Linked DNA regions of Homo sapiens: all the other regions are linked to region 2. Evidence: fine-mapped expression QTL. A gene starts in region 2. Each other region holds a variant in brackets. All regions are shown on one strand. Distances are from middle to middle. Region 1 overlaps ARHGAP18 (Rho GTPase activating protein 18). Region 2 holds the start of ARHGAP18 (Rho GTPase activating protein 18). Region 3 holds the start of LOC102723409 (a long non-coding RNA gene).

The links. PIP is the estimated chance that this variant, and not a neighbour inherited with it, causes the effect.
Region 1: its variant is the best candidate, but not a certain one, in a credible set for the expression of ARHGAP18 in whole blood (INTERVAL, PIP 0.74).
Region 3: its variant is the best candidate, but not a certain one, in a credible set for the expression of ARHGAP18 in whole blood (INTERVAL, PIP 0.74).

What each region holds. Positions count from the first base shown.
Region 1 is chr6:129,681,608-129,692,591 of GRCh38, reverse strand. The region is part of intron 1 of ARHGAP18 (Rho GTPase activating protein 18); the gene reads left to right. Among named protein-coding and RNA genes, the nearest start is that of ARHGAP18, 23 kb to the left of the region's middle. RefSeq lists an enhancer at 8,254-8,548. The variant T/C (reference allele first, on the strand shown) is at 4,463.
Region 2 is chr6:129,704,887-129,715,870 of GRCh38, reverse strand. It overlaps ARHGAP18 (Rho GTPase activating protein 18), which reads left to right and starts at 5,694. Exons shown (of 15, transcript NM_033515.3): 1 at 5,694-5,847. The coding sequence starts at 5,735. RefSeq lists a silencer at 5,341-5,420.
Region 3 is chr6:129,560,359-129,571,342 of GRCh38, reverse strand. LOC102723409 (a long non-coding RNA gene) reads left to right here and starts at 1,777. Exons shown (of 8, transcript XR_001743860.2): 1 at 1,777-10,984. The variant A/G (reference allele first, on the strand shown) is at 5,189.

The DNA.
Region 1 (10,984 bases), 23 kb after region 2:
TAGGATGCCATCCCATGCTGCCTTTTCCCTGTAGAGTTCTGTGGGTGATGTCTGTATGTTTTTGTCTGTATGCTTTCATATTTATCCCCTAAAATTCTGTGCCTGTTTAACCACCTTGACATGATATCATTTCTCCGTACCCAGGCAAATGGTTTGTATGGAGGGATCTTCCAAAGTCAGCCAACCTAGTGCAGGGAGGACAAGGAGAGGGAAGGAAAATATGAATGAACTCTGTGTTACTGGGGACCCAGGCATGATGGAATATTCTTGAGAAAAGGGTCTGCTCAGGCGAGCTTAACTCCCTGGACAGCCTGCCTTTGAGGAGAGGAAAGGAAGGAAGCATGCATTTTGTAAAGAGTAAAACATTTCACAAGATACTGAAAACAAAATCCACAGAAATGCCCAGGCTGCCCAGCCTTTGACTTAGGCCAGTAGGCCCAGAGGTTGTCATTCAAAGAAAGAGGGGGTCTTTGGGTTTCAGGGCCAGGAACAGAAAAATGGGCAGGGGCCTGGAAGAGGAGAACAATTATGGAAGGAAAGGGCAGTTGCTCCTCCTCTGTCACTTTGCAGAGGTGCTGGCTGTGTCAGTGCTGAGGAAGCCCCAGGCCAAGCCCAGGTGGCCCCTGAGAGGATACTGCCTGAGGCACTCCTGGCAATGGAGGTGGCTTGCAAGAACAGCCAAGGACTGGAGAAGCCAGTGTGGGCTGAGCAGGAACGGGGATGTCAGATGCATGGACATAGCACTTCCTGGAGCACATGGCTGCAGGGAGGAGTAGATGTTGCCCCTCAGAAGCCTTTTGGGAACCAGAAAACAGATTGGGCAGTGGGTGGGTGAGGACTTCCACAATTATGTGAATGTAGTATCAGCCAGAGACCTTTTGTTTATTGCCATTGTTGGGTAGTTCACACCTCCGAGATTATGCTTCCTGGTTAGGTGGCCCGAGAAGCACTTGTTTAGGTATACTTTTAAAAAATTTTAATTGATAGCGCTCGAATACAGAATGTCACTTACAAAACTTTGTTCTGTGAACCCTTGGCCAGTAAGTTTTAACGCTTAGAGAGAGCCACTCTTCAAATTTCTACCTGAAATCGTAATAATCTAAGCATCTTGAAGAAATGATTGGAAGTGAATTTTATTAGGAAAAAACTGCTTACTCAGCAAAATGTTAAAGTGCACAGAATTCTTTTTAGATTAAGATAGATCTTTCCATGGAGATGCTAAAGCATTTCTGCATGATTCAATATTTTCCCACCCCCGAGTACTAGTTTTCTTTTTCTGTAAGTGGAGTTCTCTAGGCTTCTAAGGGCCCCATGCTGGTGAGAACTGGGGCCAAAGTCTGTGTAGTCTTTATCAAGGCATAAGGTTAGGGAAAGTGTGTGTTTATGTTGGAGGTGACTGTTTGGGGGTCATTCACTTCCTTCCTTCCCCCATAAACATACTACCTGCTTCTTCCCCATCTCATTTGTATTAGTGGACTAAATTAATGATTGAATAACCAGTTGAATTGTGAGGATTTTGTGCAATAATATTACATGCATTGTATTACTCAAAGGATCAGCTTATATTGAGCCCAATATATAAATTATTGAGATGCAAAACAATTGTTATGGGGTGATTTTGCATTCGAGTAGCATTTAAAAAATACAATTCAAAGGTAGTTTGTATTGAATAAGTAATGATAGCATTGAAATGAATTTTCAATTTCAAAGATTTTAAGAAAATCTTTGAAAGCATATAAATTTTGCTTTATTCAGATGTTGTGAAATATTGTGAATATTTGAAATTGTGAAAGCATATAAAATTTATTTGGTCTCACATGAATCTTCTAGATTGTGACATACGTTATTAAGCTGGTGAAATTATAGTATGAAATGTTTTTCTTTTCACGGGGAGGAATATGAAATGCTAGAAATCTATATATGCTGTATTATTGATATGTATCCTCTAATCCTGAATATCTTCAAAGTGAATATTTATAGTATTTAATATTTTATTTGCATTACATATTGGGAAAAAGTAAATGAAATATTATTTGTTTGAAAATGAACCTTATCTATAGATTCTAAAATTGTACTTGTGAGTAATGTAGACAATCAACTCTCTTTAGTCTCTGAATTGTTATGTTTTATTGTATTTGCAACATGAATCATTTTGCATTTGGAGAAGTTATATGTTGTATGTAATAATTGATGACTTGAGATGAGGGTAATAATCTACCACTTTTGTTTAAGCCACATCAGATATTAATTGTCACTATCTTAAGCATAGCATTTGTAGGTTTCTCTCTGATAAACATATATTTAGTTCAGCAGTGGTTTTATTCATTTTTGTGAACGGTTACACTTTAGGCACTGCATGTATGTGAAGATAATATAAGTATTATGAATACATTGTTGGTGCATTTTTACTTACAGTTTCCATACAAATCATTACACACACACCACATACACACACACACACACACACGTTTACATGGGCAGAACATTTATGTTGATTTTGTAATGAATAAAACATTATAAACGGACTGTTTGGCCAAAGTGCTTATATGTCTGCTTATTAACATAAGATTAACATAAGACTCATAATTTAAATAGATGTAATTACTTAAAAATGAATCAGCCTTCTTTAGAAATTAGATGACAAGTTTACTTACATGGCCAAACCTCTTTGTAGTTTTGGAATTCAGAATGGAAATTTGAAGGCTGGATGCCAGGAGTGTGGGAGGTACACAAAGAATCGTTTTTCCAGGAATGCTGTTTTCCAGGTTTCTGTGAAAAGCAAATGCGTGCCTTTTCTGAGTGATGAAATAGAGGAACAGAAAGGTGTCAATATATATGTATTCTGCTTACACACTCACAAGGATTCCTGCAATTATGCTGAAAGGGCATTTTAATGCGAACCTATAATGTTTAAGTGGATTCTTATTCCTGTATTCTTGAGGAAAGTACTCTGGTGAAGTTTTCAAATTCACAGCAATGTATGCCTGTTTCTCCTTCTTGGGGTAGTTAAAAAACAATACATGCCCATTTCAGCACTTTGGGAGGCTGAGGTGGGCAGATCATTTGAGGCTAGGAGTTGGAGACCAGCTTGGCCAACATGGTGAAACCCTGTCTCTACCAAAAATACAAAAATTAGCCGTTCATGAAGGTGCATGCCCATAATCCAAGCTACTCTGGAGGTGGAGGCAGGAGAGTTGCTTGACCCGGGAGGCAGAGATTGCAGTGAGCCGAGATCACGCTACTGCACTCTAGCTTGGGTGACAGAGTGAGACTTAGTCTCAAAAAAGACAAAAAACAAAACCATCCAAGCAACCAAAAAAATAATACATGCTGGTTTCTCTTATCCTCATGTGAGAGGGAAATCAGAGCTTCTCAGCTGTCAGGTTTCTCCTTGGTGTCTTTCAGGCTGGAGACTGGTAAGTTTGTTCCCAAATGCCTGACAAGGCCTCAGAGATGATCATTAGTGGCAGCACCCATTTATTCCTCCAGAAATTTCAGATTTGCTCCCTTGATTCTGCTTGTTTAATAAATTCCAGACAAAGAAGAGTAATAGCACATACGTTTTGCATGCTAAAGAATTACTTAGAATTTGCCTCTTGTTGGCTCTGTGACATTGAGATTCTCAAGGAGACAGGAAGAAAATAGAAGTTTTTATATTAGACAATAGTTAGATGCAGTGCTCTTAGCATCAGTCTATTGAATCTCCAAAATATGGAATCATTGTCACTGGTAGCAGCTATATTTGGATTTCATTAGCCAGTGTAGTAGCTACCAATGATAAGGCATATTTTTTTTTTTTGACTTGGAGTTTCATTCTTGTTGCCCAGGCTGGAGGGCAATGGTGCGATCTCGGCTCACTGCAACCTCTGCCTCTTGGGTTCAAGTGATTCTCCTGCCTAAGCCTCCCAAGTAGCTGGGATTACAGGCATGTGCCACCATGCTTGGCTAATTTTGTACTTTTAGTAGAGACAGAATTTCACCATGTTGGTCAGGCTGGTCTTGAACTCCTGACCTCAGGTGATCCACCCGCCTCGGCCTCCCAAAGTGCTGGGACTACAGGCATGAGCCACGGCACCCAGCTGATAAGACGTGTTTTTTAAAAACTGTGCTGTGGTAACTCCTTGGAGTTTGTTAACAGGTGCTTTATGTACTATCCCATGTTTTCTACTAAGGATGATAAGCACTGTCATATCTGTGTTACAGGACTGGAAGTTATAATTATTATAATGTTACATCATTTTTAAACCTTGCTATAGGTGTTTACAGAAGAATGACGTCTTACATCCAACTAAGAAGATCAGAGAAAGTTTCAGGTTTCATCTTGCTGGAGCAGTTGGATAGGATTGGGTTTTAGGGGAAAAAGGTAAATACATTCTGAAGAGAGAGAAGTTTGGAAGGGAGCTGATATGTAAGGATGCTGACGTGGCTCTTGGGGAGGAGAAGAAAAGACTGGAACGAGAGG[T/C]TGAGGCCACTTTGTGGAAAGTCTTAAAGGTCAATCTTGACTGAAGAATTGGGATTTCTTTTCATCCATGTCTGCTTGTGAACTGCCCACTCTTCAGAATACCCAATTGCTCCATCATGGATCACTGGGTCTACTGAACTGGAACTGTTCTGATGGATTGACACTGTAGTGGGAAGAGGGAGCTCTCGATGACGAGATGGCATGGTTTTGTATCTCAGATCTACCCTTATTGGTTAACTGACCGTGGGTGAGTTACAAAACATCTCTGTGCCTCAGTGGTGTTGTGAAGATTTAAGTGAGCTAAAGCACACAGGCCCACTGGAAATAACTTAAAAAAAAATGTTTGGTTACTATTGAACTTCTTATGCTATCTGAGACAGTTACCTCCTCTGTCGTGTCATGAACATAGTTTTCAATAAGTATGTGGAAGAATCTAGAGATATTGTGATGAGAGAGGGAGATGGTCAACACAGGTTAAGGTGTGGGTTAGAGGAAAGAATGGCACCTTGTATGAATTGTTGCCACTTCCTGTCTGAAGCCTGCTTTCCTAGAGCAAAGATCCTCTCCTATTTCCTTCACTTGTTCTGGGAAGAGAATGAAGGTGCGTCCTCAGTACAGCCCTGCTTTGATAGGGTTTGAGCCTGAGCCCAGGTGTCCTGATGAGTCCTGCTTGGTGCCTGAGGAAGAAGAAAAGGGTTGTTGTGGTTTGTCAGCCCCAGACAGGCAGGAAACGCTTTCTTAACACTATGTGGGTGAGGTTTCAGCTATATGCTGTGTCAGTAGATCCTCAGACTCTTGGCATTTCCAAACATTTGTAGTTTCTGGCATTTGCAGTAATTTGGAATGTTGGAAACTGGTAACTTACAACTTCTCTGAGACCCGTGAACTAGAGTTGCAAGTCCTAAAGGTGGGGTGCATAGAAACTGGTCCCTGCATACCTGTTCAACATCTGTAGCCAACTGTCATCTCAAAGGGATGAAACTGTGCTTGCAAAGAATGGTTTTATGGCCAGGCGCAGTGACTCACGCCTGTAATCCCAGAGCTTTCGGAGGCTGAGTTGTGTGAATAACCTGAGGTTAGGAGTTTGAGACTAGCCTGGCCAACATGGTGAAACCTCGTCTCTACAAAAATACAAAAAAAAAAAAAAAAAAGAAAAAAAAAAGAAAAAAAAATTAGCCAGGTGTGGTGGCCGGTGCCTGTAATCCCAACTACTCCGGAGGCTGAGGCAGGAGGATCGCTTGAACCTAGGAGGTGGAGGTTGCAGTGATCCGAGATCGCGCCATTGCACACCGGCCTGGGCCACGAGAGCGAGACTCCATCTCAAAAAAAAAAAAAAAAAAAGGTTTTATTAGGGAGGGAATTCAGTGAAAGATGACGGGATGACTCCCCTGACTCCTGAAAAATATATCAATCTGGAGAAAGACAAATCCATATAACTTATAACTTGTAACACTTAAACACTTCTATAGTTGCAAATCTGAGGATTCTGGAAGTTCAGCCCATATTTCTCTGGAATATCCAGGTGGGTGGCTTTCTCAGTATCCTAGGGAAGAGACTGAACTTTGAAGAAGTCGGTGCCCTGTGAGGAGCCAAGGCAGCTCTGGGTAAGCGTCTGGTCTTTGCCAGCTTACCTGCGCAGGGAACCTCTATCCTCATATCTTACTGGTGGAGTGGTAGGCTGGAGGCTCCTCTGATTGGTGAGATTTGGAGGTGAGGTAAGCTTTCAGATGCTCCCTGAACATCACTTGTAGAATGTGCAGAGAGTCTTATGGGAATGGCTGGGAAGGCAAGCTCACTAGGAGATGAGCAGCCCAGCCTGTAGGGGACAGTGCAAAGGAGAAAGTGGCTGAGGAACACAGGGCAGCCATGGTAGGAGGGTTTGGGAGCGTGGGAGTTCATATTTTACACTATGTTGGTACTTACCATGCAAATGAACGGCCCTGCTGGGAAAAGAACCTTTATCCAGAGAGGGGATCCGAGGAAATAGTAAGAGTTGGGTTCCGAGAAGCTGTGCTGCATCACGGGAGAGCTCGGTGTTAGGGTCTTTTGCAAAAACCCAAATTTATTTAATTTTCCTTTAGCACAGACTTTTCCTTTTCTTTTCTGATTTTTCTGCCCCTCCGCCCGCCCCCGGCAATGTAAGGGCTGAAGAAGCATTTTTCTTTTACAGTGGGGTCAACTTGCTTTTGATTTTGAAAGTTGTTGCCAACATACAGGCAGGGTTGTTGCAAAAAGACTTCTTCGTTTCCTAGAGGAGGGCTTGAGTAGGGAGAAAACCATCTGGACTTCTCACTTCTGGGAACTCAAGTATTAACTAAATTCATTTTTGTGTGTAGATCAGAGGGGAAAATAAGAGGAAGTGGGAGAGGAAAAAAAAAAGCTGCCTTGTATTTTTGAATATGGAAAAAACTATCAAGTGATCACCGTGATCAGCACATTTAATGGTTGCATTTAAGTCTGAATAGAATTTTTGAGAAGGCTGGGCTTTTTTGACATCTCTTTTTAATGAAAAATATGTAACAATAACCTTTATACAGTACCTTCAATTTGCCTGGTATTGTGTGCTTTATAATATCCTATATTTGAATATTGACTCATTTATATTTCACAATTTTTTTTTTTTAGACGGAGTCTTGCTCTGTTGGCCCAGGGTGGAGTGCAGTGGTGTGATCTCAGCTCACTGCAACCCCTGGCTCCCAGGTTTAAGTGATTCTCCTAGCTCAGCCTCCCAAGTAGCTGGGATTACAGGTGCCTGCCACCATGCCTGGCTAATTTTTGCATTTTTAGTAGAGATGAGTTTTTACCATGTTGGCCAGGCTGGTCTTGAACTCTTGACCTCAATTGATCCGCCCACCTCGGTCTCCCAAAGTACTGGGATTACACATGTGAGCCACTGTGCCCAGCCCTATATTTCATGATTCTATGAGAGTAGGTATAGTTATGGTCTCTATTTTATAGTTGGGGAAACCGAGGCCCAAAAGTGAAGAAAACTTGCTCAAGGTGACATGCTAGGAATGTGGTGGAGCTGCTTTGAAACCCTGGCAGCCTGGTTCCAGAGGCTGTCCTGTTAATTACTACGCTGTGTCCAGTGTCCACCGCCGGAGTCTGAGAAAGCAGTAATGACGTTTCTCTATTTCAGTGACCTTGCATATTGGATTTGCCCAGTTTACTTTGGAAGTACCCATTCCACTTTTCTAGGATCATGAAACACTGTATTTAATACTCAAATATCTTAGTGCTGATATCTTCTCTGATTCTAGAGGGCATTTCACAGATCTTACTGAAAAATTCCTTGGGGTAGTATTAGGCTTCGGGTTAAGTAATTTATTTATTAGACAAATTTCTTGGCTTTCATGATTTGGGTAAAGTATGGTCAATCTGTGTACTTCTGATTATATGCTAAACACGTGAAAGTCACCAGATGGCCAACTACGATGATTCCCATGGACTTCTACGGATATATTAATGCTGTTTTGGAGGACCCTCTGTGTGCCGCAGGCTCCATGACACCTAATGTTGGTGGATGCGTTCTGGTGTGTATGTGTTTCCATGAAATTTACAAACTAACACACAGCATTCTAACATGTTCACTTAGGAACTTTCAAAACTTTGCCCTACAAGACAACATTCTCAATAGAGAAAATTTAGAAAAATAGCAGCACAAAAGAGGAGGCAAAAGTCACTTATATTATTAATATAATACTACTCTAGAGCTAACCACAATTGAATTTTATTTTGCCTCAGTATTTTTTTCCCATGCACATTCCTAGGCATGCTATCTTAAAGCAACAGTTTGTGTAGTTAATCTGTTGCTCTCCCCACAGTTATATTTTAACTAGGGTACTGAATACAGAACGTTTTGCACATGCATTTTTGCTGGAGAAACCACAGATATGTAGCCATTTATAGTGTTTCTTAGCTATCGCATGCATCATTTCCTCTCCTACTTCCTCCTGTCACTGGCAGTCCTGCAGCTGGCCTGCCTTGCCACTCCTGACATCTGAGTCATCACTGACATCTCTCTCCCCAGGCCTGCTCAAGGAGCTCTTACTAAGCTTTGTTATTTTTTTCTCTCCAAGATTTTTCAGATCTGTACTTTATTTTTCAACGCCCCAACTCAATCCTAATCTGCACTTCAATCATCTCGCGCTGTCAGTGTCAGTTTCTTGGCTTTGAGCTCCTTCTCTTTTCAATTCACATTTTCAAAAGCCATTTTCTCCCAAGTGTTTTCTCACCTTTCCTTTCTTAGCAGAACTCCCCCCCGCCGTGGTTACACCTCCACGTTACTTTCCAGGTATGCCCACATCATTTTATGATTCTTGATGGTGTTCTCATTCACCATATCCACTTTGTGCAAGGCAGAGATACACCTTGCTGCTTTGTTATTGCATTGTTGTGAAAGGTAAATTGGGCTGGCCCCAGAGAAAATTGTGAAATAAGGAAAGATTTTGCCATCTCCAACCTCTATTTTCCATTACATTTTTGACTCATCAGGGCTTTTTTCTTCTCTGACTTGTTATCATTCCGCTCTGTAATTCATACTGCTAATCAAAATATGAAAGGATCTGATATTGGTTGTTTATACGTAAATGAATTTGATCACAAATTATTAACGTGTGATCAATGTTTTAATGAAATGAAGCTAATGCAAGTAGATATAGTTTTTCATTTCTACGGGAAAAAAAGCCCGTACTTGGCAGATAAAAAAACCAACAACCCTGTGCTGGTTCCTTCCACCTCAAATTAAAAGAAAAAACAAGGCCGGGCGTGGTGGCTCACGCCTGTAATCCCAGCACTTTGGGAGGCTGAATTGGGCAGATCACGAGGTCAGGATATCGAGACCATCCTGGCTAACATGGTGAAACCCGGTCTCTACTAAAAATACAAAAAGTTAGCCGGGCGTGGTGGCGAGTGCCTGTAGTCCCAGCTACTCGGGAGGCTGAGGCAGGAGAATGGTGTGAACCTGGGAGGTGGAGCTTGCAGTGAGCCGAGATCACGCCACTGCAGTCCAGCCTGGGTGACACAGCGAGACTCCGTCTCAAAAAAAACAAAAAAAAAAACAAAAAAAAAAAAAGAAAAAACAAAACACATTTCTCACTTTTTTTTTCCTGAAGTATATAAGTCTGTGAATAACCATGGTGGTAAAAACAGAAAGGAGAAACAGAACGAGAAAGAAAGAAATAGAACAATCAATAGAATATAGTAATATTATCAAGCTATGTCTTTTGATTAAAATGTATTATATGGTTTACCTTGATTAAAATGCATTATGTGTGCAGTTTTCTCAAAAAAATTCTTATTGTGTTTTATTGTTCAGTCCCTTGTTTATTCTCAGCTGTGTGTCCAGTTACTCTATCCATCTTAGACTATAAACTCATCAAGGCATTAAACATGTTGTTTTCTTTATTCCTGAATCTCAACATCTAGTTAATGCCAGGCAGGCTGTGGACAGTCAATAAATGTTTGCTAATTATGTGATGATGCTTTGGGACATAAGAATGTTGCTTTGTGTCTCTAGGGTTTTAGTTTATTTTTACCAGATCAAACTTTAGAATTCGACTAACACTAATGTCAGAAGTCTGTGTTTCAGTAACCATCTACAGATAATGGCACCCAGTTGTCCATGAGGAGATGCCATTTGCATCCTGTGTGGGTGACAGCTATGCTTTGATTCCTCTTGGATCTGTAGGACTACTTGCCTGTAAGACCTCATGTATTGTTCTGGGGGTCTGCCAGAGAGGGAAGCTAGCCTCAGAACACGGGGAAATGAGGCAAGGGGGCTTCAGAAGTGGTCATGTCAGGATTCTGGCTTGGCAAAGAGAAAGGCGTGGGTTGTTTTATGTTCCAAAGCTGGAGTTATTTCTTCTGTGACCCTGGCATGTCTTCATACTTAACAGACACCAATATTGTCCTTTCCTTGGTTTAGCCAAAACCGGGGGTTAGGGTGGGTAGTAGGAGGTGAAGGAGCTTTTCTTCAGTATGTATGAAGGGGATTGACGTAATATCTGCTTTCATAAACTGAATCTCCAGTGAGCCTTCCTTTAAAAAATAATTGTATGTAAAAACCACATAATGATTCTGTAATTACAGTGTGTTGGCACAGTTGTTAAATTATAAATTTAATAAGCTAAGATGAGCTCAGTAAGAGTATAGGCTTTTCACTGGAGTGAAAGGACATTACTTGATGAGATACAGCAGAGAGGAAACAATAGACTTTTTGTGTAGCTGCCTGAAACTTCTGCTAGGTGAAGGCAAGCCAATAAATGAAGAAGAAGGGATAATGGATTGCCTAACCTGTGAACTTGGTCACCATGTTCTTTGAAAACAAAGTGAAATGCAATGTGTTGTCTTTGGACTGTCTCACAGTGCTTACCCTACATCAGACAACCCTTGTCTAGTATTTCACGGATTTTGATTTGCTATTTATTTTGCATTTGCCTTCATGTTGCTATGTTTTAAGCCATGAAATGAATTATTTATTCTGTTTATACAAGCAAAAAAAAGTTAATAGCTCAAATAAAA
Region 2 (10,984 bases):
AAAATTCTACTTTTCCAGTACGTATTAGCCTCCAGAATATACTTCATCATTCCAGTTGCAAGTGTTTGCAACATGTATCTCCATTCTAGTTGTCAATGAAGAGAAAACCAAAAGAAAATTTAGGGTCATGGCACTTTTTCTTGGATAATTTCCAGCTTAGGCTAGTTTTGATATGAAGGGCAGATTTCTCATGAAGTTAAATGAGATTGAATCTTCAGAGTCTGGCTCTTGCATAAGGCCTCATCCAAGGCTCCATAGCTAACAAATTCTATAAGCTTTGGGTTCCGCACATCGAATCTGCTTTTTTAAGAAAAAAAAATTCATAATCATAGTGATCAGAGTACTTTTTTTCACTTCTATCAGTGGAAACAATTTTAGATATGATGGCACAATGATGATGACCTTTTAGACTAGTGTATATATTATGCCACACTACCCCAATAATTTGACATAAAAAAACAAGTTTCAAAGTACCAGAAAAGAATTGAGTGTAAATCTCCATAGCATTGTATTTATATCAATATTCCATTTGATTAAGGACCTTAGGTTTGCTGTAGATTATTTAACTTTGTTATTCATATGATTCTTTTCAGAAATAAAATGATGTCAATTCTAGGACTGCTGTAACCTTTATAATGCTTAAGAGCTCAGGCTCCAAGGTCACATAAACCCAGGTTTACATGTCCTGGTTCTGCCACCTACTAACTGGATGACCTCATATTCCTCATCTCTAAAGTGAGCGTAATTCCAATTTCTATCCCTGGTGGTGATTGTGATGATTAAATGATAGACCATGTATACCATGTCTAGCGAAGAGTAAGGACTCAATATTAGCTATTGTTATTTATTGGTAATAAACTATTTGTAAGAAACATCTTTTCTAAATGATTGCCGAAAAGCCTAAATTAGCCTCTGGCAATAGCAGTTACAAATTATCCCAAGCATGGCTAGTATTTTCTCGCAGGAGGAGCAGTTAAGAAAATAACTTTGAGAATAACGTAGACATTTTTAGAGCTGTCCAGAGAAAGGGAAAAGGGTTATTTCTTGTTGTTCCAGAGACAGAATTAATAACAATGAGTGTAATTCCCAAGGAAATAGTTTGAGATTCTGTATATGGAATAATTTTCAGTCATAGTACCCTAGCACAGAGGTAGCTAACTTTGTAAGCTGACAAGAACTATTCCTACGAGGTCCTGATAAAACATGAGGTAAGGGATGTTAAGAACTCTTCCTCTTCATTAGTCAATCCTGCTTCATATGTCTAGCCTTTATCACCTATGTAAAACTTTAACTTCACAGTTGATTAATTTATTCAAGTTCTTGTTATAATATTGAAAATTGGGTTTAATTTTACCATTTGGAAGGTCATTTTCACATGGCTTTTGTCCCTATGTAGATTTTCATCATCATATAGAGATTGTGTGTACATATTCTCCTTTAATTCTTTTTTTTTTTTTAAGAGAACTAGACCAATTCAGGAAAAATTTGATAAATTATATGCTGATTCCATTGCATGGCACTCTTCTAATACAATTCCTTCTAATACTAAATAGGCTCCTAAATCAACATATAAAAACCAGCTAATAAACTCTTTGCTACCACTAGCACTGAACTGAAGAAAAATTTTTTCATTGTTTTTGAACATGGGTGTCAAATTGTCAGAGACTGCAGTACCATCTTCACCCTATTTTTAACAACCTATTTGGGTACATAAATTACCGCTTCCTTTTCCTTTCCTGTGTCATCTAGTACACCTCATTTAAACAGAATGAATGAAATGAATGTTTAAACTGTCTTGATGTTGTTAATTACTTTTTAAGATGTTTCATAACAGGAAAGTGTTTGGCACGCACTCAATAGCTGGGAATATTAACATCTTCAAGGTCATGAGGTTCTCAGTGTGTGTTTAAAATGGTTGCGGAAAGGAGTAAAAAAGTGTTTTGTTTTTTTTCATAATATTTGTCTCTGCAAAAGAGCGATAATGGTATAAGGGATGGACATGAGCTAAACCTTAGTACAGTTTACAGTGTGAAATAAGAACAGGTTTTTTTTTTTGTTTTTGTTTTTGTCGTTGTTTTTCTTTTTTTCTTTTTCTTTTTTTTTTTTTTTTTTGAGACGGAGTCTCGCTCTGTCTCCCAGGCTGGAGTGCAGTGGTATGATCTCGGCTCACTGCAACCTCCGCCTCCTGGGTTCAAGCAATTCTCCTGTCTCAGCCTCCTGAGTAGCTGGGATTACAGGTGCCCACCACCACGCCACCCGGCTAATTTTTGTATTTTTTAGTAGAGACGGGGTTTCACCATGTTGGCCAGGCTGGTCCTGAGCTCCTGACCTCAGGTGATCCACCTACCTTGGCCTCCCAAAGAACAGCTTTTTAAGAGACCACACTGGTAGTTAGGTTTGCTTCTTTGATGACATGGGAAAATTCTGAAAACTGTTTTTAATCTACTTGAGCATGTATCTGAGGCTATGAACACCAGGCCACAGTCCTACCAGCTCTCTGCCTGTGATAGGTAATACCCTTCGACCAGTAGCAACAGGGCTTGGTGGGAGGAAAGGAGAAAAAGCTCAGAGGATTTTCAGGTATTTGAGAGCTAAATTAGAAGGATTCAAATTTTATGTACTAAGCTATGTAAATCAATTTGTATCACATTTGGTTTTCTGCCTCACAGAAATTAAAAACGGTGGATATTGCAAACCCAAATATTATTTTGACATTGTAAAACAATTACATTTCAACCTGTACATTGTGATTTGTTATTAAACAAGTGAAAAGACCATAATTAGGCAAAAATATAACTAAATAATTGTTTTGGCTATAACTGGACAAAATCTTCATCGCAAACTGTCACATGAGAGATGCAGTGCCCGTGGCTGCCAATGGGCATGGATGACATTGACAGGCTAAAGACATAGCAAAGGAAGAAGGAAAACTAGAAAAAAAAGGAAGATAATAAAAAGGGAGGTAGAGGGAAGTAAGGGGGGAGAAAAAGGTGGGAGGGAAACAGAAAAGAATTTCCAAAAGATAATGTAGTGATTACCATCAATAATTGTATAAGATAGTGATTCCCATATGTTTGCATTTCAGAGTAGCTACATAAAAAAGGAGGGGTGGATGAGCTGGTTATTAACATTTTTTCCATGTAAGGACACTGAAAAGACAAAACACATATATTCTAATTTACTTTAATCTTTGCCTCCCTCTCTTTATAGTTTTTGTTTTGCCTGAACTGATGAACATTTCCTCATAGGTTAGCACTGGTATGTGCATGGGAACCGCTTATCTAATATTACCAATTTTAATATAAAGATTTAGTAGAGTTGGCCGGGCGCGGTGGCTCATGCCTGTAATCCCAGCACTTTGGGAGGCCGAGGTGGGCGGATCACCTGAGTTCGGGAGTTCAAGACCAGCCTGACCAACATGGAGAAACCCAGTCTCTACTAAAAATACAAAATTAGCCAGCGTCGTGACACATGCCTGTAATCCCAGCTACTCGGGAGACTGAGGCAGGAGAATCGCTTGAACCTGGGAGGTGGAGATTGTGGTGAGCCGAGATCATGCCATTGCACTCCAGCCTGGGCAACAAGAGCGAAACTCTGTCTCAAAAAAAAAAAAAAATTTAGTAGAGTTTTAAAGGATACTTTCAATTCATTCAGGTTTTCCTCCATTCAGTGTTTACTGAAGGCTCAGTAGGTACAAAATTTAAGTTAGCTGTCAGATGAAGAGAAAAGAATCATAGTAGGACCTGAAAAGATTGTGTCTAGCAGATGGAAAGACTTGTATGTATAAGGTAGCAGGAATGCCCAGTGATCTGCTCAAAAGCCTGGAACTGGCTCTGTTAGCAATAGAGAGCCAATGAAGGTTTTTAAGCGAGGAGAGGGATCATGAGTGCCAGGGTGTGATCATAATGTCAAAGCAATTTAAAGGAGGTGACAGGGAGATGAGCTAAAAGGGCTGTTGTAATATTGGAGCTAAGACTGCATTATAGGATCCAGAGGTGGTTGAGGTCATGGGGATAAAAAGGAGACAGCAAGTAAAGTCCTATGGAAGTGGAAATGGGAAGGTTGAGCAGTTGTGCAGGGGGGAGGGAGGAAGATATAAATTCCTTTTAAGGAAGACTTTTGTAAATTATAAGAAAGAGGGTTCAAAAATAAATTTCAGATACTTCTAGAGTATGTAAGGAGGAAGAAATTATTTTTCATGACTGTTTTAAATAATGATAAGGTATAAGCAATAAGTTTATGTAATGATGGAATTGGAAACTTGTTCAAGAGGAATTCTAGAGAGTTGAATGAATCATAAAAATCTAAAAAAACCTTCAGACTACTGGGTATGTCAGAGTAGAAGCCAGGCGTGGTGGCTCATGCCTGTAATCTCAATACTTTGGGAGCTTGAGCCAAGAGGATTGCTTGAGCCCAGGAGTTCAAGACCAGCCTGGGCAACACAGTGAGACCCTCCCTCTCCACAAAGCATAAAAAAATTAGCTGGGCGTGGTAGTGCATGCCTGTGGTCTTAGCTATTGGGGAGGCTGAGGCTGGAGGATTTCTTGAGCCTGGGAGGTTGAGGCTGCAGTGAGTTACAATCACCACTGTACTCCAGCCTGGGTGACAGAGTGAGACCCTGATTCAAAAACAAACCAAAAAAGTGATTTTTTTTTTTGGAGGGGAGATGGGGAGAAAGAACAGAGCTGTCTTTTGTGTTTATGATAATTTTGATCTTGTTTCTTAATCTGCAAAACAAAGAAGAGCATACTGGTGAAAAATAAAAGGAATGTAGCCTAGAATTCTGTTCAAATCCAGCTTCTGGCACTAGCAACTGTGTTATCTTAGTGAAGTTACTTAACTCGTCCCTCAGCCTTACTTTCCTTGTGTTATGTATAACACAGATGATAGTGATACCTATCTTGTACGGTGTGTGTGTGTGTGTGAGAGAGAGAGAATTGAATGGAATGAGATAATACATGTGAAACCCCCGTCCATGAGAGCTTGGCATATAGTAGGTGCTCAACAAATGGCAGGGACTTCTCTTGTTCTCAGCAATAACACTTAACAGAGCATTGGTAGGTCTATCCCTTTTTGGTGCTGAAAAATATTTTGCTAAAACAAGACGTATATTTGAGATTGGCTTTATGTGAAAGACGACGACATTCCAGGACACACAATTTTTATGAGGGCATTTTTAACCGGACACAAGGATCAAGCCTTTCTCGTCGTCTGGATTGCAGAGTTTTGCCGCGGGTTCGTTGTTTTTTACTATGGCTAATTTTAACGCTGAACATGAAGGGGTTAAGAAATGCCTTTACTCATGTTACATTAAGTAGCAGAAATTATAAGATAGAGGAATTGGGGAGGGAAAAAAAAAAGCCTTGGCAGCAACTCATGGTTTCCTAAGTAAGACGGCTTGTAGTTACAGTGATGAGTTGAATATACGTTCTGGCAGTTTAATCTGATCAGACTAACTTGGGGGTGGGTGCAACCCGTCGCTTCCACCCTTCGCCTCCTTTAACCAAAGCCGCCCAGAGTGCAATTGTCCAGAGTTGAAACCATGCTGTGAGTTGCAGCTTCTAATTGGAGAGGCAGGAAGCCCTTCCCTGGACAGACCCCGCCCCTCCCCGTGTGAATCGCCAGCCTGCGGGGAGGAGCTGGCCAATGCTAATGAGCGAGTTGCCAGGCGAGACAGGAACTTCTTTCCCCTTCTCTGTGTCAGGATCGCAGAAAGTATGTCCCTTCTCTCACCATGAGCTGGCTCTCCAGTTCCCAGGGAGTGGTACTAACAGCCTACCACCCCAGCGGCAAGGACCAGACCGTCGGGAACAGCCATGCAAAGGCAGGGGAGGAAGCCACCTCGAGGTAAGCCTTCGGAAGCTGAAAACAAAACAAAACCCTCTTACCTGCTCCAGGAAGAAAGTGACAGGGAAGTTGGCGTGGGGAGAAGGGAATTCCATCTGCACGTCGAGCCTGAGCTCGTGCAGCAGCAGTAGCAACGTTTGGCGTGATTTTTATGTACTTTTCATCTCACCTAGTCCAAGTCTGAAATAACCCATATGATTACTGGTGAAGACAGAGAAGAAGGAACTGGGGAGAGGGCTATATGGGCTGTCAGACTAGCTATTTAGCAGGTGCATTTGCACATGCTGAAAGATCAAATAGGTCTATCTGAAACACTTCCTTTCCTATGAAATGGAATTCTTGAATGGGCTCAAGGCACTGCCACTGGAACTGTTCGCTGGGAAAGTCTGCCAAAAAGCAGGGAGGCTGTTCACTGTACTGTACAAGCTGTTGTTGTTAGAGTGTTTTTTTTCCCCCCTCTCTTTGCTGAAAGCAAACCTCTTAGGCAAAAAGCCCAAGACACTGGCCTGTGGCAATATGTTTCACATTCTTTTGTGTATGTGGATTTTTTTTCCCCCAGGCTTTCAAAAAGGAGTTTTTGTCAGGAGATAGCACTCTGCTGCTGGAGTGAAATGTGGTTAATGTTAAATCACTTTATAGGCAGAGAGGGCAAATGTTCTATAGACCACTGAGGCGCAAAGGGTACCTTTCTCCCTATCTGTGTACTTTGTTCCATTTTCCAAGGGCTTTTTTTTTTCTTTCTCTCCTTAATGACCTTCTCACTAGCTGAACATTTTTACCTCCATCAAGATATAAATAGTAAATATTGGCCTAGAAGATTGCAAGAAGCAAATACTAACCTAATAGCCTAGAACACTAAATTAGTTATCGGTAAGCACATTTCCTCCTCAATGCTTAATGTGATAATAAAACCTTCTTTGTTCTTATGTGACTTATGCCTGTGCCTTAAGCTGAAATAATGCTGCCTTTCATTTGTTTTAAAATCTCCAAATATGAGGGAGGGAGAAAAATCAAAGGAATGGCTGTAATACTCAGTGTTAGACTCCCAGCTGACGGGAACTGTTTCTCACATAGCATCCACAGTATGTATTTCATTGAATGAATTCATTTCCAAAGATAAAAAAGATTTGGTGCTTGTGCCTTAGCTGTGTTACCATTTCATTTTCCATCATTTTAAATGACTTAATGTTAAATCATTAAATCAAGAGATCTTGAAGTGTTTTCATCCATTTTTCTGTAATGTATTAGTAATCATTAAGCAGTAAAGCAGCCTGCAACACCAACCCCATACCCAGCCATAACTTGGATTCCACATGTCAGTCAAAATTGCCAAAATTATACAAGCTCAGGACATTCTCCGACTTTAGGCTGAATGGCCTGAGGACCTGAGCTGAATCTTGGATCTTGATTGTGAGAATGGAAAGGACCTTAAGGACTGAGTCCTAACCTCTCATTTTCACGTAGGACTCAAACCCCAGGGATTAGTTAAGTTTTTGGAAGGTCTGGAGTTCTAGGCCTTTGTCTGGGGCTGCATCTCCAGTTCTGGAGACTCATTATTCTGTGTTTGCAGTGTGGGTGGCCCATACTTGAGTGGGTTGAGAGAATAAGAGAGGATCAGATCATTCTCTGCCTAGGCTGAAGCAGAACCAAGAGGCACTAAGGTGGCAGGGTGGGCAGCTGCCCACACGGCAAGTGCCCTGTGTGGGGCCACAGCTCCAGGTGAGCTCCTTTGCTGGCTGTCACGTAGCCTGCCCATACCAGACCCAACTTCCCACCACTGAATTAGTTCTAGGGATCGTTCCTGATATTGACCGGAGAAGATGGGAGCCTGGTTTGAGGGCAGGGAGGAAGGAGGGAGTAGGGCTAGTTTTCAATGGCTTTTACCCTTAAGGGCTAACGAATCAGATAAACTTGTTGTTGTTTTGGGAGATACCCTGTTTAGCCTGAAAGGATTGAGATACTGTAATTGCTATGGGGGAGGGGATGGATAGAAGGAAGGAGGATTTGAAGGTGGGATGGGGTCCTCGGTGACCACCTAAGAATGGTGATAGTGGTTTCGGGGCGGTGAACTGGACTTTGGCTTTGGCTTTGGCTGGGTTGGTCAGGTGTTGTTTTAAGCCCTGGGAAGCTGCTCCAAGGTGCAAGGTTGATGGTTGATGCCTATTTAAAGAAGTTCTCCAAAAAGTAAAAACAAAACAAAACTCTTAAAAAGGCTACATTAGGCTGGGTGTGATGGCTCACACCTGTCATCTCAGCACTTTGGGAAGCTGAGGTGGGTGGATTGCTTGAGCTCAGGAGTTAGAGACCAGCCTGGGCAAAAAAAAGACCCCCGCCCCCACAGCTCTACCAAAAATACAAAAAAAAAAAAAAAAACAAGAAACCACAAACAAACTAGAAATGGTAGTGCATGCCCGTGGTCCCAGCTACTCAGGAGGCTGAAGTGTGAGGATCACTTGAGGCTGGTGGAGCAGAGATTGCAGTGAGCTGAGATCACGCCACTGCACTCCAGCCTGGGTGAGGGAGTGAGACCCTGTCTCAAAAAATAAATAAATAAATAAAAAATAAAAGCTAAATTAGATTCTGCATTTCCTCCTACCCATTTAAAAATTATAGAAGATAGCACGGAAGTATAACTTTTCTTATCACAAGATTTTGTCTGTAAGTAATATGTTCTTTGAAATATTTAATCCAATATTTAGTTCATGAGATGAATTCATGTCTTTATAATGCCATTTATACATATGTGTATGACTTAGCGTATTTATTGAAAATTGTTTCCTTTTTTTTTTCGAGATGGAGTTTTGTTCTTGTTGCTCAGGCTGGAGCACAATGGCGCACTCTTGGCTCACCACAACCTCTGCCTCCCAGGTTCAAGCTATTCTCCTGCCTCAGCCTCTATAGTAGCTGGGACCACAGGCATGCACCACCACGCCTGGCTAATTTTGTATTTTTTTTTTTTAGTGGAGTCGGGGTTTCTCCATGTTGGTCAGGCTGGTCTCGAACTCCCGACTTCAGGTGATCTGCCCACCTTGGCCCCCCAAAGTGCTGGGATTACAGGCATGAGCCACTGCGCCCAGCCTGAAAGTGTTTGATTTTTAGCCTAGCCATACCAAGTCTTTTTTTTTTTTTTTTTTTTTTGAGACAGAGTCTTACTCTGTCACCCAGGCTGGAATGCCGTGGCACGATCTGGGCTCACTGCAACCTCCGTCTCCAGGCTCAAGTGATTCTCCTGCTTCAGCCTCCCAAGCAGCTGGGATTACAGGCGAGTGCCACCACCCCTGGCTAATTTTTGTATTTTTAGTAGAGACGGGGTTTCACCATGTTGACCAGGCTGGTCTCGAACTCCTGACCTCAGATGATCTGCCCACCTCATCCTCCCAAAGTGCCGAGATTACAGGCATGAGCCACTGCACCCGGCTCCATGTCCTTTTTTATTACCATTTGGTCTTTTGAAAAGCTGAGATAGTAGGGAATTAATATTTTTGGAAGTAATTTGTTAGCTAAATTTTCTCCATTCCATTATCCCTCTTTATCAGAAAACAGTCATTGAATGTCAGATTAAGGAATTCCTCCCACTCCTGGTTAGAGCCTCTCCCTTTATAGAATCCTGTTTTTCTTTTGTATGTTTCCTCCTCAAAACATGAGGATTTGAAGAAATATGTTAACATTAGTTGTCATGGCCGACTTGTACACAGTTGAATGTTTCCAAAGGAAACCACTTTTTATGAGTAGCTATATTTATAAGACTTTGTTTACTTGTTTTTCAAGCAGGCTTCTTAATATTTAGTTTTGAAAAGAATTTTTTCGAAGAATATTGTGTTTTGTCTATTCTTACTGTTCTCTCTTACCTTCCCATTTTAAGAGAAATGGTTGTTTGCTTTGCATATTTTTTGCTAATATTTTAATATGAATGTCAAGTAACCTTTTTTATTGGGCCTTTTAATTCCTTAGCTAACTGAATGGACTGATGAGTGAGATATTTTTATGCCTTCTCTGAATAAATGTATGGCATTCATCATGTAAGGTCTTGTTGACCCAACTTGCCATTGGTATTGGGTAGGCAGAAACAAGAGGCACTACACAGGGGTGACATAAACCCAGAAACCCTGGGTTCTGGGGCCAACCTGTCTGGGGTCATATCCCAGCTCTCTCATTCATTAGCAGTGTGACCTTGGAGGAGTTATCTCTCTACCCATAAATTGAACTTCATAATATTACTCACCTGATTAAGACAACTGAGTGGGATGACCTCTGTCAAGCCCATAGAAGAGTGTCTGGTTTGTAGCTAGCTGCTACTTTCCTTAATACTAGGTAAAGAAAAGGAAAGAAAGGATTGAGTTTTGCAGGATATAGAATATTCTCCCTTGTTTCAGAAGCGTTTTTCTGAATATTATTTTGTCATGTGTTAAGAAACATGGGCATTATCCATATGCTTAAAAAATGACATATTTGAGAATGAACCATAATGTAAAAGTTTAGGCCTTTGAAGTTTGAAAGACCTTGGAAATATCATCCTGATCCATAGCACCATTTATGATTTGAACTGGTAACAATTGCCTATACCAGGCCTTTCTTGGGGGGTATTGATGGGCATTGAGGTCTGCAAATATTGACTCTATGGCAAGATAGAATGTGGGTGGATCCTCTTTTGGCAGCTGGACTCACTCCTGTCTCCATGCTTCCTTCCTCTGCTTTAAGAACTACTACTGCCCAGCATGCCAAATGGAAGAGGACTATCATCTTTATAAGCTTATCTCAGTTCTTGACTTGTTCATGTCTCACCCATTCCTTGGTTCTGCAAGCATAATCATTCAGTCATTCCACATATAAGAGCTCTCTCTTACTGTGTGTCAGGCAATTGTTTAAATACTGGGGTTGTAATGGGGGGAAATAAACCAGACAAACATCTGGGTGCAGGGAGGGTAGCCTGGAGGGGAAAATAAAGACCTGAGCAGGTGACAGGTGAGCCCCAAAATATCTGGGGGCAAGAATTAGAAGAAGAGTTTTTAAGGCAGATAGTGGGTAGAGAGTGTAGAAGCCATAAGCCTAGATAGAGTAAGTCTGAAACCAAGCACCCAGAGAGCAAAGAGCCCTGCATGACTGCAGGGGTCAGGATAAGGAGGAGGGAGGAAGAAGA
Region 3 (10,984 bases), 140 kb after region 2:
TTGTCAGAGACTAGGATTGCAACCCCTGCTTTTTTTTTTTTTTTTTTTTTTGCTTTCTATTTGCTTGGTAAATATTCCTCCATCCCTTTATTTTGAGCCTGTGTGTGTCTTTGCATGTGCGATGGGTCTCCTGAATACAGCACACTGATGGGTTTTGACTCTTTATCCAATTTGCCAGTCTGTGTCTTTTAATTGGGGAATTTAGCCCATTTACATTTAAGGTTAATATTGTTATGTATGAATTTGATCCTGCCATTATGATGATAGCTGATTATTCTGCCCATTCATTGATGCAGTTTCTTCATAGTGTCAATGGTCATTAAAATTTGGTATGTTTTGCAGTGGCTGGTACCAGTTTTTCCTTTCCATATTCAGGAGCTCTTGTAAGGCAGGCCTGGTGGTGACAAACTCTCTCAGCATTTATTCGTCTGTAAAGGGTTTTATTTCTCCTTCGCTTATGAAGCTTAGTTTGGCTGGATATGAAATTCTGGGTTGAAAATTCTTTCCTTTAATAATGTTGAATATTGGCACCCACTCTCTTCTGGCTTGTATGTTTTCTGCAGAGAGATCTGCTGTTAGTCTGATGGGCTTCCCTTTGAGGGTAACCCGACCTTTCTCTCTGGCTGCCCTTAAGATTTTTCCTTCATTTCAACCCTGGTGAGTCTGACAATTATGTGTTCTGGGTTGCTCTTCTTGAGGAGTATCTTCATGGCGTTCTCTGTATTTTCTGAATTTGAATGTTGGCCTGCCTTGCTAGGCTGGGGAAGTTCTGCTGGATAATATCTTGAACTGTGTTTTCCAACTTGGTTCCATTCTCCCTGTCCCTTTCAGGTATACCAGTCAAATGTAGGTTTTCTTTTTGGTCTTTTCACATAGTCCCATATTTCTTAGAGGCTTTGTTTGTTCCTTTTCATCCTTTTTTTCTCTAATCTTGTCTTCACTCTTTATTTCATTAAGTTGATCTTCAATCTCTGATATCCTTTCTTCCACTTGATCGATTCTGCTATTGATACTTGTGTATGCTTCATGAAGTTCTTGTGCTGTGTTTTTCAGCTCCGTCAGGTCATTTATGTTCTTCTTTAAGTTCGTTATTCTAGTTAGCAATTCCTCTAACTTTTTTTCAAGGTTCTCGCTTCCTTGCGTGGGGTTAAGACATGCTCCTTTAGATTGGAGGAGTTTGTGATTACCCACCTTCTGAAGCCTACTTCTGTCAATTCATCAAACTCATTCTCCATCCAGTTTTGTTCCCTTGTTTGTGAGGAGTTGTGATCCTTTGGAGGAAAAGAGGTGTTCTGGTTTTTGGAATTTTCAGCCCTTTTGTGCTGTTTTTTTCTCATCCTTGTGGATTTATCTACCTTTTGTCTTTGATGTTGGTGGCCTTCGGATGGGGTTTTTGTGTGAACGTCCTTTTTGTTGATGTTGATGAAGCTGTTCCTTTCTGTTTGTTAGTTTTCCTTCCAGCAGTCAGGCCCCTCTGCTGCAGGTCTGCTGCTGTTTTCTGGAGGTCCATTCCAGACCCTGTTTGCCTGGGTGTCACCAGAAGAGGCTACAGAACAGCAGAGATTGCTGCCTGTTCCTTCTTCTGGAAGCTTCATCCCAGAGGGGCACCCACCAGATGCCAGCCAGAGCTCTCTTGTATGAGGTGTCTGTCAACCCCTGCTGGGAGGTGTCTCCCAGTCAAGAGGCACAGGAGTCAGGGACCCACTTGAGGAGGCAGTCTGTCCCTTAGCAGAGCTAGAGTGCTGTGCTGGGAGATCCACTGCTCTCTCCAGAGCTGGCAGGCAGGAATGTTTAAGTCTGCTGAAGCTGCGCCCACAGCTGCCCCTTCCCCCAGGTGCTCTGTCCCATGGGGGTGGGAGTTTTATAGGGCTACTGCCTTTCTGTCAGAGATGCCCAGCCCAGAGAGGAGGAATCTAGAGAGGTAGGCTGGCTACGGTGGCTTTGCCGAGCTGTGGTGGGCTTCACCCAGTTAGAACTTCCCAGCAGCTTTGTATACACTGTAAGGGGAAAACAGCCTACTCAAGCCTCAGAAATGGCAGACTCCCCTCCTCCCACCAAGCTCGAGCCTCCCAGGTCGACTTCAGACTGCTGTTCTGGCAGCAAGAATTTCAAGCCACTGAATCTTAGCTTGCTGGGCTTTGTGGGGGTGAAATCCACTGAGCTAGAACACTTGGCTCCCTGGCTTCAGCCCCCTTTCCAGGTGAATGAACGGTTCTGTCTTACTGGCGTTCCAGGCATCACTGGGGTACGGAAAAAAAAAAAACTGCAGCTAGCTCGGTGTCTGCCCAAATAGCCGCCCGGTTTTGTGCTTGAAACCCAGGTCCCTGGTGGTGTAGGCACCTGAGGGAATCTCCTGGTCTGTGGGTTGTGGAGACCCTGGGAAAAGCATAGTATCTGGGCCGGAATGCACTGTTCCTCACGGCACAGTCCCTCACAGCTTACCTTGGCTAGGGGAGGGAGTTCCCTGACCCCTTACACTTCCTGGGTGAGGCAACGCCTCACCCTGCTTCAGCTCAGCCTCCATGGGCTGTACCACTGTCTAACCAGTCCCAATGAGATGAGTAGGGTACCTCAGTTGAAAATGCAGAAATCACCTGCCTTCTATGCCGATCTTGCTGGGAGCTGCAGACAGGAGCTGTTCCTATTTGGCCACCTTGCCAGCCACTGTGAACTGTGACTTTTTAGTGTATATGTGTTCATTCAACAAATATTTATTGGGCACCTACATATATGCCAGACATGTTCTACCCTTGAGATGCATCAGTGAACAAAGTAACAAAAAGCCCTTACATTCTAGTGGAGGGAGACTGATAATGAAATATTAATGAGCAAATAAAATTCTATAGCATATTGAAAGGTGGTAAGTACAATGGAGACAAAAAAGATGAGCAGAGCAAATAGGACAAGATGTGGAGGGATAGGGTCATTGCAGCATTCCACAAGAAGTCTCGTTGAATAATTAACAACTAAGCAAAGACTGGAAGCAAGTCTTCAAGGAACTTGCCATGTAGATACCTGGAAGAATATTCTATGCAAAGAAAACAACTAGAACAAAGGTGCAAAGCAGATATGTGCCTGTTACCAAAGGTTGTGTGGCTGGAGTGGACTCAGGGCCGGTGATAGTAACAGGGCAGGGCAGAGAAGTAACACAATCATGGGGAGTGAGATCATGGAGGGCTTTGTGTTAGGGCGATTATTGTTCAAATCAGGACATTTCTGAGAGTGAAACAGGGCACTGTTGGTGAGGGCAGTAACTGTGGAGTGATAAGTACCCAGATTCTAGATATATTTTTGAAGGTAGAGCCTGTAGGATTTTTTCTGATACGAGAGGATTTTTAATCAAGGATAACCATAAGACTTTTGACTTGAGCCATTGCAAGGATGGATTTTCCAACAAGAGAAATAGGGAAGTGGAGGTAAATCAGGTACTGTTAGCAGGGATTCAGGAGTTCAGTCATGGATGTATGGGATTTGAAGTGCCTGTTAGATATCCAAGTGGCAATATTTTGTAGGCAGTTACATGAGCAGGCATTAAGGAGAGAAGTCTGGGCTGGATTCATCAGCATGCATATGGACTTTTAAACCATGACCTTGCATGAGATCACCAAGGGAGTGAGTCTGGGTATAATAAATAAAGTTACCGAGAACTCGGTCCTGGAGCTACCCAACATTAGTGGTTAGAAAAGAAAGAACTAGCAAAGACGTTGAAAATAAGTAACCTTATAGATAACTGAGAGACAGTGGTGTCCCAGAAGCCAACTGCAGGGGGCGTGATTGTAGTATCAGATACTACTTATAGTTCAAATGAGTTAAAGGGCAGAAGTTAACCACTGGCTTTACCTATGTGGAGGTCTTAGTAGACCTTAGTAGACTTACCAGTTTTGGTAAAGTGATAAGGATGCTTATAGCGGGGTTAAGAGAATGAGAATTGGGGACTGTGAGTATGGACAGCACTTATAAGGAGCTCTCCTACACACAAGGGAGCAAATAAGGCACTAGCAGAAGAAAGAGTTGGAAGTGCTTTACATAGGGCCTTTGATGCTGGGCAAAAGAGTTTTTTTAATTTTAAGCATTTTTTTTTTCAAATTTAAGTAATATTTTGAGAAGAGATGATATGGATACTGGAGCCAGACTACCTGGATTAACGAATGTGATCTTGGACAAGTTACTTACCTGGGCCTCATTTTATACTTTGGATAAAGATAATAATAGGAATATTCTTAGCAGCTTACTAGAATTAAACAACCATACAAAGGGCTCAGCAGCATACTTGCCTGATGGGATTTGATAAATGTATTTTTATTACTTGTTATTATGCTCAATATTATCAGAGCTGTACCTTAATAATTTTAAAACATATTATTCTAGGCCCGGCGCAGTGGCTCACGCCTTTAATCCCAGCACTTTGGGAGGCCAACGTGGGCGGATCACAAGGTCAGGAGATCAAGACCATCCTGGCCAACATGGTGAAACCCCGTCTCTACTAAAAATACAAAAAGTAGCTGAGCGTGGTGGTGTGTGCCTGTAATCCCAGCCACTCAGGGGGCTGAGGCAGGAGAATTGCTTGAACCAGGGAGTTGGAGGTTGCAGTGAGCTGAGATGGCACCAGTGCAGTCTAGCCTGGCAACAGAGTGAGACTCCGTCTAAAAAAATATATATATATATATATATATACATATATATATAAAATTCTGCCATATTCTATTTTTCTCATCAATACAGAGAAAAGATGTAACAGACCTATCAGTAATAGATCCTAATAAACAGATGAGAGAATGGTGGAAGAGTGGGCAGCACCTATATTTAGAAATAACCAGCCCTCCCTTGAAGGGTAATTCTGATAGCATCCCCCATGAACATTCCTTTCCCCAAGTTAGGAGTCATTTACTGGATATTTATGGAATGTCCCTCTTGATCTCATTTGGAGTTCTGGTTCCAGTGCCACACTATCTCACCTGGAAATCAGTGCTAGTAACTCTTCCTTGGAGTATCGGTGCCACTGTAGGGCATAGAAATAATTTTGTGAGAACATCTTTTTTCTACTTCTGTGAGCTCAGCTCAACTTTGAATATTATTTGTTTCATTTAAGTTAAATAAACTGGCATAAAGACAGAGTTCTCTCCCTGCATTTCAGACCAGAAGGTCTAGGAAGTAAAACTCTTATCCAGTTCATTTTCTGTCTTGATAC[A/G]TTGTTCACTCTTGGGACAATCCTGGGCTCTTTCAGTTGGCGTTAGCTGCTCCTGCTGGCAGAAGTTCCAATTCCTTGCCCTGGTGTTTCTGGGTCTGTGATCTCTCAAATGTTGTATTTAATACATATTAAGTGGCAATAATAATTTCCCTCCCATTTCACTTGGCCTCATATCTTGGAATCTGGACTTGGCATCCAGCTTCTCTTTTTCACTTGTGTCCTAAAGTTGTGTATGCAGTCGGTTGGCTCTGGTAGAAAGGATTCCAGATGAAACATTAGAACCCCCTCCTTCCATACAAGCATTTCTTCAAGTCCTTAAGGTTTCTTGGAAGAGTTTCATGAGTTATTTTCACATGTAGCTGCATACTGTATAGAGAAATAGATTGGTTGCAAGAAAAACTGCTTCTATGGTACTTCCAACTTAGTCAAGAAACACTGGCTTTGTCACAAGCAAGCTTTTTATCTTGAGATTGCAAGTCTTGATTTCTCAACTGAAGGAGCTCAGATAAGCTACAGAGAAAGCAGCTCCACTCTGTGCTATCTTTACTCCTCTTTTGATGTTCTCCTCTCGCTGCACCTGGGTAGCTCAGCGCTGCCTCTTGTTGCATCTCCTGTAACCTTTACAAAATAACAGCTTTCGTGTAATCTCTGCTGCAAGTCACCTTCCCCTCCAGCAAGGGCCAAAGTGAACAAGGAATTTCCCCTGGAGGGAAGTTCGTAAGGAGAGTCACAGACAGTGGCCCAATTCTGAGCAGTCAATCAGTTACATTTTTCTTTCACCTGAGTGTAGCTTTGTTACAATCACAAAAAGGGAGTGATTTAATCATTACTTGTGCCTTCACAACTCTCATTTCAATGGGGAAAATCTTGGGGTGTCTTAGCTTTGGTTGCTTGTATCACCCAGTTTGTATTGTTGACTAAACAAATACTAGATGTTTAAAGAATTAAAATTTATTTAGAGTCTTATTGAGGATTATATTTTGGAAAAATTGTCTAGAGATACGTTTTGTTAGACTTTTTTAATGCAGCTTAAATTATAGTTTTTATGTAGGGAGTGAAGATCCAGCATGTATAAAATTATATTAAAATTTGGGCCTAAGAGTATATTTGGTTATAGTTTGCGGGGGCATAATTGTTGATTTTGGCAGGCATGATTTTATGTGTAAGAACAGGTAAGGACCAAGTTCATTTATTTTTTAAGGAATGTAATGTCTTAGGCAAGAGATGTGGGGAGCTGTGTGCCCTATCTTGTTTATGTCTTTAAGGCATTATTTTGGAGATCCATACTTAGTAACAGAATCAGGGAGACTAAAATTATGTTGGCAAGTAAACATGACTTCTTATATTTGTTACTTTTTTGTCAAATATTTGGAAAAAACAAAAGGAGTTTTACTGAGAACATGAAGAATTAAATAAGAGATTGTGCATCTCCACTTGTCGAAGAATCCTGAAACATGTTCTAGGACGTGCTTCATTCATCCTCATGCTAATTATGATATTAAGAAGAGGGAAGGAGCCGGGCATGGTGGCTCATGCCTGTAATCTCAGCACTTTGGAAGGCTGAGGTGGGTAGATCGCTGGAGGTCAGGAGTTCAAGACCAACCTGGCCAATATGGTGAAACCCCATCTCTACTAAAAATACAAAAATTAGCTGGGCATAGTGGTGTGCACCTGTAATCCCAGCTACTTGGGAGGCTGAGGCAGGAGAATTGCTTGAACCTGGGAGGCGGAAGTTGCAGTGAGCCGAGACTGCACCATTGCACTCCAGTCTGGGCGACAAGAGTGAAACTTAGTCTCAAAAAAAATTAAAAATACAAAAAAAAAAGGAATTAAGATTCTTTATTCTTAAGAAACTGTTAGGTGTAACTAGATAATACATCAAAGTATACCGAGTTCATTAGACAATGTTATTTTGATAAGGAATACTCTAAATTTTCTGAAAGAAAAATGGCTATCCATTTGTTTTTCTTAGCATTTTAGTGCCTGCTATGTGCTATACCACAAGTTAGGTTGCGATGATGTAAAAATCAATTGTATGTGCATTTCCACAAGGAGATTGGATTTAGATTTGTGAATAGGATTAATGGGGAATGTATCCCTAGCAAATGGGCTTTGATTTGAGGGAAGCAGAATATGGGTACAACTGATTGTATGGGTAAAATGTAATGGGAAGATAGAGAAAGGACACTGTTAGTTGGGTAATTGTTAATGGAGATAGTGGTACTTAAGCTGGAAGTGCAGTTAGAATATTGAAGACTAGATCAGGTCAGAAATGATGAGGCTCAGAATTAGGGTTGTGGCAGTGAAAAGTGAGAACGGGGCAGACAGATGTTGCAGAATGAGGTCAAAAGGATTTGATGATTCCATTGGATGGAGAGAAGTGAGGGAGCGGAGTTTAAAGACGTTTAGAAGATGATGGTGCTTTTCACTGACTCCCAGAACTGGGAGAAGTACTGATTTGAAATGAAGGGATTGGGGCAAGAGAGGGGTAAGTATTATGGGTGTGAAAGGAGAGAAGATGAGGATATGTTGAGCTTACAGTGTTGAAGAAGCTGAACAGTTAGAACTGAGACATCTTTTAGGTAAGATTTCTTTGAAAATGTATATTTAGAAAATACTTTGCAGGGTGGTGATATTTAAAGCCATAGAAGCAAAACAAATGGTCCATTGAGAGCGAAGGGCCAAGAGAGGGCTAAGAACAACTTTGAGGAATGCCTTTCTCCACTTACAGGATGCATAAAGGGAGAGATACCTTAGAAGGAACAGTTCAAACCATAGTAGTAGTGTCAGAAGAGTAAAAATCACAGATGTCAGGGTTGACAGCAGGTTTAACAAAAAGGAAATGATCAACTATGTCAAATAATTGAGAGAAGTGAACCAGATGAAAGTTAAGTAGAAACCACTGGAGCTGAAGTCTATAAGTTCAGGGCTGACCTAGAGAGCAGGTCTAGAGTATTTTGGAGTGATGGGAACAGATGCCTATTGCCATAAGCCAACATGTAAATAGGAATTGGGAACTATGAATTTAGTTGGGATTGTTGGGGGAAAAGGCAGAGGAATAAGGTTTCTCAAGGCTTTTTTTCCCCAGTTGGATATTTTGCAGAGGGAAACTTGATCATAAAATAGTTTTCACATCTAATTTCTAATATCTGAACTATCTGTATTTCTATTTTTAGTTAATTCAAGAGCTTCTTGGTTCCTCTTATCTAAAATATTACAATGATTAACTTTTGAAGAAAACTGACTGTGCTAAAGTATCTAAAAGATCACTCAGAGTAACTTCTGAAGAAAATTGGGTTAAAGGTGAAAAAGCCTCCTTCTCCAAGAATTTTGCCAGTCCTTAAGGAAGACCAGTAATTTAAATTTTCTTTTTATGATTTTTACCTTGAAGAAACTTTTCCACATTTAAATCAAATGATTTTAAATTAAGCGTGTTTGGGAGCTGGTGTTAAAGAAGGGCTGATAACTCTGAGACACTAAAGCTTGTTCCATATTAGCAGCTTTTTTGAAAATATCCTTGGTTGGGAGCTGCTACCCTGATTCTCACTCCACATATAATAAGAGTTTTGCTCTGCCTACTATAATTTATATAGCAAAACCCAAGGAACATATACTAGATGCATTGAAAAATATGACGCCCTGTAAAACAAGACTTAGGACAAGTGTTACAGAAGGCTTTGATTCCAAATCCTAATTATTGGATGGCAAACAATACACCAAGTACACTATAATAATGTTCTTCAAAGTTTTCCACTTACATGTCCCCTAAAGTGATTATTACAAGGATGTATTATCTTGAATATTTTTTTCATTAAAATCTAACATTTTTCATCCTAAGTTTAAATAATTGCAAAGGACATTCTAATACTTTAAATTATTTCAAGAATAACATCAATACCATAGTGATTTGATACCCTGTTGTCTGTTTTTAAAAATGCATGGAAGCTCATCATTAATAGCAAGAACTTCTACGTTTTTTCCCCTTGAACTCCTATTTTTATTAGACTTTCTTCCTTAGAAGTTTATCCTAAAGTAATGTATTCAATGATACAAAGCAATTGTGTTTCTCTACAGCAAAATAAGTATATATGTTGAAGTTATTGTTGATGAAACAAAAATATATCACATATTTTGATAAAGCTAATAAAACATTTAAGTTTTATTGAAAATTAGGTTCTGAGAAAGGGTTTCAGTTTTTAAAAAATTTAGTTATCACTGGATAGATGTTATTCCTAATAAATTCAGCATCAATTTAGTCCTCTTTCTCAATTATATGTGTGTAGACACCAAGAAACTTTTTCACAATCAAATGTAAATTGCAATTATTTTAGTGATACTCAGAGATACTCAGTTTTTTGAATTTTTAAAAAGTTCATTATATGCCAAAAAAAAAAAACATAGATCTCTGTCTCAAAATTATTAGGTCCTTCTTTGTATTTTTTGAAACAATCTGACTTATATAAGGATTTATTACCCAGCTGTTACAATCATTCATTTTTTAATTTCTGAGAAGTATGCCAGAAAATGATTACTGGCTTGATGAGGAGAAAAATCTGTAAAGCTCTTGTTGCATATATTGTCAAATTGCTTTTTAGGAAAGTCATACTAATTTATACTTCCATCAATGACAGTTGAGTGATAATCTCAATGTCTTCTCACCATCATTTTCTTTAATATTCATTAATTTCATGGGTGAAGAAATGACATTTTGCTGTTTTAATTTGCATTTCATGGATAACTAATGAGGCTAATAATGTCTCATATGTTTGTTAGTGAATTCATAAAACCAGGGGAGATATCTTTTTATATTATTTGTTTCTCTGTTACAGTACTAGTTATATATACTCTATAACAAATATATAAACTGTATATTTAGGACCCTTAGATTTATCATATTTGCACATTGAATGAGTATGTATAATAGAGAATAGAAATGTTATAGAAGAGCACCTGGCCCGCAGTAAATAATGTATAAGTCAACCAAACTCAGCAGCATTGTTATTACAATGATAAATATTTCTTCCAATTTGACTTTAAATGTTTTTATTTTAACATAATGCTGCCTTTTTTTTTTGCCTTGGTGTTCCAGAGTTCTTCTGAGCTGAGAGATTATTATTCAATAAAGAAGGTGTTATGAACTGTTTTTATTTCCCCAATATTCATTTGTTAATTTGGAAATGAGGGCTTTGGGAGATAATTAGGGTTAGGTGAGGTTATAAGGGTGGGTCTCTTAGGACTAGTGGCTTTTCTTTTTAATATGCAAGATTTCATCATGAATTAGTGGCCTTATGATGGGAAGAAAGAGAGATCTCCCTTCTTCTTAATGTGTATGCATCAAGGAGGAAAGGTAAAGTAAGAAGGCAGCTGTCTGCAAGCCAGGGAAAGAGTCCTCACCAGGAACTGAATTATCCAGCACCTTTATCTCATGCTTCCTAGTCTCCACAACTGTGAGGATCAATTTCTGTTGTTTAAATCATCCATTTGGCATTCTGTTATGGTAGCCTGAGATGATTACTATAGAAGGCTTCCTTAGAAATTATGAACTATTTGTCCTTGGAAAGTTGGTATAGTTACAAATAATGTTGATCCTCATCCTCTCCTTGAACATGTTGATTTATGCATAGGAATTACTAGGCAAATAGAATTTTCTTTTAGCCATTTTTAACTTGAGATTTCATATCAGTTTTTTTTCCCTAAGAAGTTAAATGATATTTAAAAATGGTCTATTTATGTCAAAATATATACACATAAACCTTTTTTTCCATTCAAGTTTGTTTTATTTATTTTTTTGTTTCT